Regions from separate parts of the Homo sapiens genome. Here region 2 is linked to region 1. Evidence: fine-mapped expression QTL. Tissue or cell type: whole blood. Region 1 holds a variant in brackets; the other region holds the start of a gene. All regions are shown on one strand. Distances are between the middles of the regions.

Region 1 (2,500 bases):
GAAACAACAGCTTCAGCCTCCTGCCAGGCAGTGCCATGGGTGGCCTGGAGACCAGCCTCCGGCGCCTCTACCTGCAGGGGAATCCACTCAGCTGCTGCGGCAATGGCTGGCTGGCAGCCCAGCTGCACCAGGGCCGTGTGGACGTGGACGCCACCCAGGACCTGATCTGCCGCTTCAGCTCCCAGGAGGAGGTGTCCCTGAGCCACGTGCGTCCCGAGGACTGTGAGAAGGGGGGACTGAAGAACATCAACCTCATCATCATCCTCACCTTCATACTGGTCTCTGCCATCCTCCTCACCACGCTGGCCGCCTGCTGCTGCGTCCGCCGGCAGAAGTTTAACCAACAGTATAAAGCCTAAAGAAGCCGGGAGACACTCTAGGTCAGTGGGGGAGCCTGAGGTACAGAGAAGAGTGAGGACTGACTCAAGGTCACACAGTGATCCGGGATCCCAGAACTCTGGTCTCCAAATTACAGCCCAGGACACCTTTCTCTGCCGCCTGCTGCATCAGTGGGTGACCCCCTTCCCGGGCTGCACTTTGGGTCCAGCTGTGGAAGCCAGAAGTTGGGCGGTTTCAGGGACAGCCGAGAATAATGTTGACCTGTCAGATCAACAAATCTTCACTGAGCATGTATTTTGTGCCACACCCTGCTCTGGGCACTGGGAATGCTGGGAAATGAGATACATTCCCGCCCTCAAGAATCTCCCAGTCTGGTAGGAGAGAGTGCTGCAGAGCCACGTGGCCGCCACGCAGTGTGCTTAGGGCCTGAGGTGTGAAAGCCCAGGGCTCCAGAGCTCGGCAGGCCCCGCTGGTTTGGTGCGGTGAGTCCTGCCCCGGCTGTGCCAGGGTGAGGGAGGGCCAAGCCCAGGAGGATTTGTCTGAGACATTTCCAAGCAGACTGTTTGTCACGTCTTCTGAGAATGACTTTCAGTCTCTCTGAAAATGAAAAGCTTAGGACCAGAAGAGAGAATTGGAGCTGTACGAGTGTGTCTCGGATCTGGTGTTGTTAGGTGGGCCACGGCGGCTCCAGCAGGGTCTGGTTAAGGGGTCCAGCCCAGCACTGGACCATTCCGTCTCCTGCTCTGGACTTGCC[C/T]TCTCCCTTCCTGGCACTCTCATGTTGCATACCCTGACCCCAGTGCTGCTCTAAGCACCGTCCCTGCCCAGCCCCACTTCTCCATCGCAGCCCCACCTTGGCTGCTGAGCCAGGAGCTAAAACCTTAGATATCTGGTTCTGTTTTGCACCCAGCTTGGCAGATGTGGATTTGAATCCAAGCCTTGTGTCTGCCCCTATGTGACAGCTCTATATTTTATCCCCGTTTTATAAAAGAGGAAACTGAAGTTCTGAAAATCTCCTTCCAGGGCCCCAGCTAACTAATGCCATAGGTGAGATTCAAACCTTCATCCTTCTGTCTCCAGGGCCTGATCTTTACCACTGCAGGGGCTGCAGGCCGTTAAGTGGACAGGAAGTGGCCCCACATAGCCCGAGCAGGGTCTGGAAGCATCCTGTGCTGTGCACACCTGCTCTCTCCTCTCTCCCAGGCAGGCAGCTGCAGGCGCTCTCCTCCTTCTCTGCCTGTTTCCCTCCTCCCTTCCTTTCCACCCTGGTGTGGGTTCTCCTGTTCTCTCTGTGCTCTTGCATTCTCTCATTCCCTTTTCCTCTATTGAGCAGAGCCTGGAGTTTGAGACTATGGAATCCAACCTCCCCATTGCACAGATGGGGAAACTGAGGCTTAGGAAGAGAATGAAACTTGTGGAGAGCTTATACAGAGCCTCTGGGGGAAAAAAGAGCCCTTATTTGTGGGGTGAGATTGGGGGTTGGACCAGAGTGATGTCCTCTCTCAGCTATCACATCACAAGATAATGCTGGCTCCAAACTTCCTTTCTGTGCCTCATCATGCAAGGATCTTTTTTCCCTCTTACAAAAACAGGTAAAAAGCCTCACCCAGATGACCCCCATCCCTCATACCATGGAGTCATGAGCTGTCTGGGAAGAATGGACGTGCTGGGACCAACTCAAGACCTTGTTTTGCTGTCTTCATCATCTTACCTGTGCTTGGCCCACAGTCTGGCTCATGATGTGGGCTCAGTAATGTGCGAGAAAGTGAAAATGCCACTCTCTCCACCCCATTTTACAGAGGAGAACACCAAGGCCCAGAGGAAGTTAAGGGAGAGTCAATGGGCAGAGCCAGGGCTAGGCCCTGGTGGTGTGTGGAGCACCCAGGCAGACCCAGTCCTGGTTGGGATCACACCCACGGGTGCTACTGCACGTAACACTCCTCCTTAGGCCTGGAGGCCAAGGTGTGGGTCCCCACGCCTGATCTTTGAAAACACTACACAGGGCTGCTGTCACTTCCCAGGGCCCAGGCCTCAGCCCAGGCCTCGGGACCAACTCTTTGTATAACCTACCTGAATGTATTAAAAACTAATTTTGGAGAAGCAGTGTGGCTGCCAGCTTCCTCTTTGCAATCCGCTTCATTGCGTCCACTAGAACCCTGCCGCT
Region 2 (3,012 bases), 28 kb after region 1:
AAAAAAAATACAAAAATTAGCCAGTGTGGTGGCACATGCCTGTAGTCACAGCTATTAATACTTGGGAGCCTGAGGTGGCTGAATCACTTGAGCCTGGAAGGTGGAGGTTGCAGTGAGCCGAGATCACACCACTGCACTCCAGCATGGGGAACAGAGTGAGACAGTGTCTCAAGACAAAATAAAAATAAAAAATAAGGAGAGACCAGACTCAGTTGCTCACACCTGTAATCCCAGCACTTTGGGAGGCTGAGGTGGGAGGATCACTTGAGCTTAGGAGTTTGAGACCGGCCTGGGCAACATGGCGAAACCCTGTCTCTACAAAAACTACAAAAAATTAGCCAGGCATGGTAGCGCATGCCTGTGGTCCCAGCTACTCAGGAGGCTGAGGTGGGAGGATCACTTGAGCCCAGGAGGTTGAGGCTACAGTGAGCCAAGATCATGCCACTGCATACCAACGTGGGTGACAGAGTGAGTTAGACCCTGATTCAAAATAAAAAAAAAAACCACCCCCTCCCCCCCCAAAAAAGAGAGAGGAAGTAGAAAAGATTGAAAGAGATTTAAGAGAAAACGATCAAATGCAATGTATGGAACTTGTGTAGATCCTGATTTTGAACAAATCAACTTTAAAAGATCTGTAAAAGATCTTTGTTAGACAATGGGGAATTTTTTTATTTGGAAGACAGCTGGCCTTGAACTCCAGGGCTCAAGTGATCCTCCTGCCTCAGCCTGCCAAAGTTCTGGGAGTAATTATACTTAGAAGCATGATTTGGAGTAATCTGGAGTAATCACGCTTACAAGTGTGAGCCACCACGCCTGGTTTATTGGGGAAATTTAAACACCACTATATACTATGATAATAAAAAATTATTATTAAAAATGTAGGCAGGATAATAGTTTCTGGCCATGCCTTTATCTTTTAGAAATACAGACTGCAATATTTATTTTGAGACAGGGCCTTGCTATGTTGCTCAGGCTGGTGGTGAACTCCTGGCCTCAAGTCATCTGCCCACCTCAGCCTTCCAAGTTGCTGGGATTTATAAGCATGAGCCACTGCGCCCAACTCCTTGTAGTATTTGTGGATAAAATTATCTGATGTTTAAATTTGCTCTGAGTAATCCAGTGGGGAGGAGTTGGGGGATAGAAATGAAACAAGAGTGGCCCTGAGTCGGGGAGGGTCGAAGCTGGGTGAGGAATACACAGTAGTTTTTGTACTATTTTTGTTGTGTGTTTGAAATTTTCCACAATAAAATGTCTTTGCTGCTGTCAAGGAGGTGGGGAGGAAGACCTAGACGTTCCCTCCAAGGCTGGGGTGGGGGAAGGGAGATCGGGCCGTGTGAGCTTTCCTCAGGAGTGAGCAAAAACAGGAACGTGCCTGCAGAGGGAGGAGTTCCCAAAGAGGAAACGGCGCAGGAACAGCAAATGCAGAGAGGATGCACACTCTGAAGAGGGCAGGCAGCTTCTGCACCGAGGGAGCAAAGGGGCGTGTCAGGGGCAGCTGCTGGAAGGAGGCGCAAGCACCACGGAGAGTCTGGGATGCCCAGCCAAGGAGCCCTGGAAGGGTTGCCCTGGGGACTGACACTGTGGGCTCTGTGTTTTAGCCAAGTCACCCAGGCAGCTGAACAGAAGATGGACTGGAGGGAGAAGCCTGGATGTAGGTAGGGAGGCCTGAGCAGTGGCCAGGTATTTCCTGGACTGGGGTCCTGGAGAAGACAAGGTGGCCTGAGCCAGGGAGTGGCCTGTGATGGACTGCAGGAGACAGCTATGAGTGCTGCTGCCAGGAGGAGGGTGCTGGGAGGGAGGAGTGCAGTGAGACCCGTTTGTGGCCTAGGCAACTTGGTGGATGTTGGTGCCACTATTAAGATAGGTTGAGAGGGCAAGTCAGGCCCCTTCATCTAGAGCCCTGGGCTGGGAGACAGGGGCCTGGGATCTGGCCCCAGCCCTGCTGTCTGGCTGTGGAACCCAGGGCATGTCTCTACCCCTCTCTGACCTAGGGGTCCCCATCTCTAAAGCAAGGGCTAGGAGCCTCAGATCAGAGGTTCTCCGAATCTGCCCCGGGTCAGATCTGTGCCCAGCCCACACGTGCACCCTTCTTGCCTGCGAAGGGCTCACGAGTTCTCATCTTGCGTCACTGAAAATCCAGTGGTGTGATGTCAATGGCATTTCCCTTCAGAAAAAGGAAATGAGCTTAGCAAGCGTGTTACCAGGAAAGGAAAGTTAGTTGGGCCCCACCCTCTGCAGCCCCATGCTCCCCGCACACAGCAAGCAAGGCCCCTCTGCCTGGGGCTGGGGACAGGACCCAGAAATGTCACAGTTCAGATACAGGCACCAACACAACAGCCTTGACTTCCAAGCAGGGCTGGGCTGCCCTCAGCAGAGTCAGCAGCTTCTCTGGCTCCCATGGCCTGGACCCTGGCCACACTCGGAGACTGAGGTCACAGGTAGCTCCAGGGTCTCATCAAACATCAGCAAGGCCCAAAAGCTGAGCTCTTTATAGCCAGGAGACTGCGACCCAGACAGGAGAAGGGGCCTGGCACAGGACACAGAGCCAGTCAGAGGACAACCCAGGCACAGGCCACATGGCTCTGGGGAGTCAGGTGGTCCCTGAAGGCCTGTCTTGCTACAGAGCTCCCAGAATGCCCCATTCCTGGTAGATGTTCCCAGAAAGTCCCTCTCCAATTCCAAATGTTAAGTGCCTTTACTAAATGAAACCACTCCCTGACACTTAGCTTTTGACCATCTAAACATTCCTTAAAATGAACTATGAAGATGAAATGAAAACCAGTGTCAATCTATCCAATACAATTGCTATATACTTTGGAAAAAATGAATAGTAAATTGGTAAGTTTGGTATATTTGGCAAATTGGTCATTTGAAAACCTGATCAGTTGGCAAGCTGGTCATCAAGCAGATCCATTTTTAGGAATTTGACCTAGAGCCTCCCACAGACCCCACCAACCAGGCCTCCTCCCACCTTCCAGCTGCATGGGCCGGGCCAGATCCACCGCATCTCCC

What was found. PIP is the estimated chance that this variant, and not a neighbour inherited with it, causes the effect.
Region 2: it holds the start of LINC02757, and the variant in region 1 is fine-mapped to the expression of LINC02757 in whole blood (INTERVAL, PIP above 0.99).

Annotation. Positions count from the first base shown.
Region 1 is chr11:76,657,463-76,659,962 of GRCh38, reverse strand. LRRC32 (leucine rich repeat containing 32) reads left to right here. Exons shown (of 3, transcript NM_001128922.2): 3 at 1-2,439. The coding sequence ends at 359. It overlaps LRRC32-AS1 (LRRC32 antisense RNA 1), which reads right to left. Exons shown (of 3, transcript NR_199061.1): 2 at 269-355. Among named protein-coding and RNA genes, the nearest start is that of LRRC32-AS1, 1.7 kb to the right of the region's middle. The variant C/T (reference allele first, on the strand shown) is at 1,094.
Region 2 is chr11:76,628,834-76,631,845 of GRCh38, reverse strand. LINC02757 (long intergenic non-protein coding RNA 2757) reads left to right here and starts at 1,424. Exons shown (of 5, transcript NR_187244.1): 1 at 1,424-1,655. RefSeq lists enhancers at 1,247-1,541, 2,000-2,359.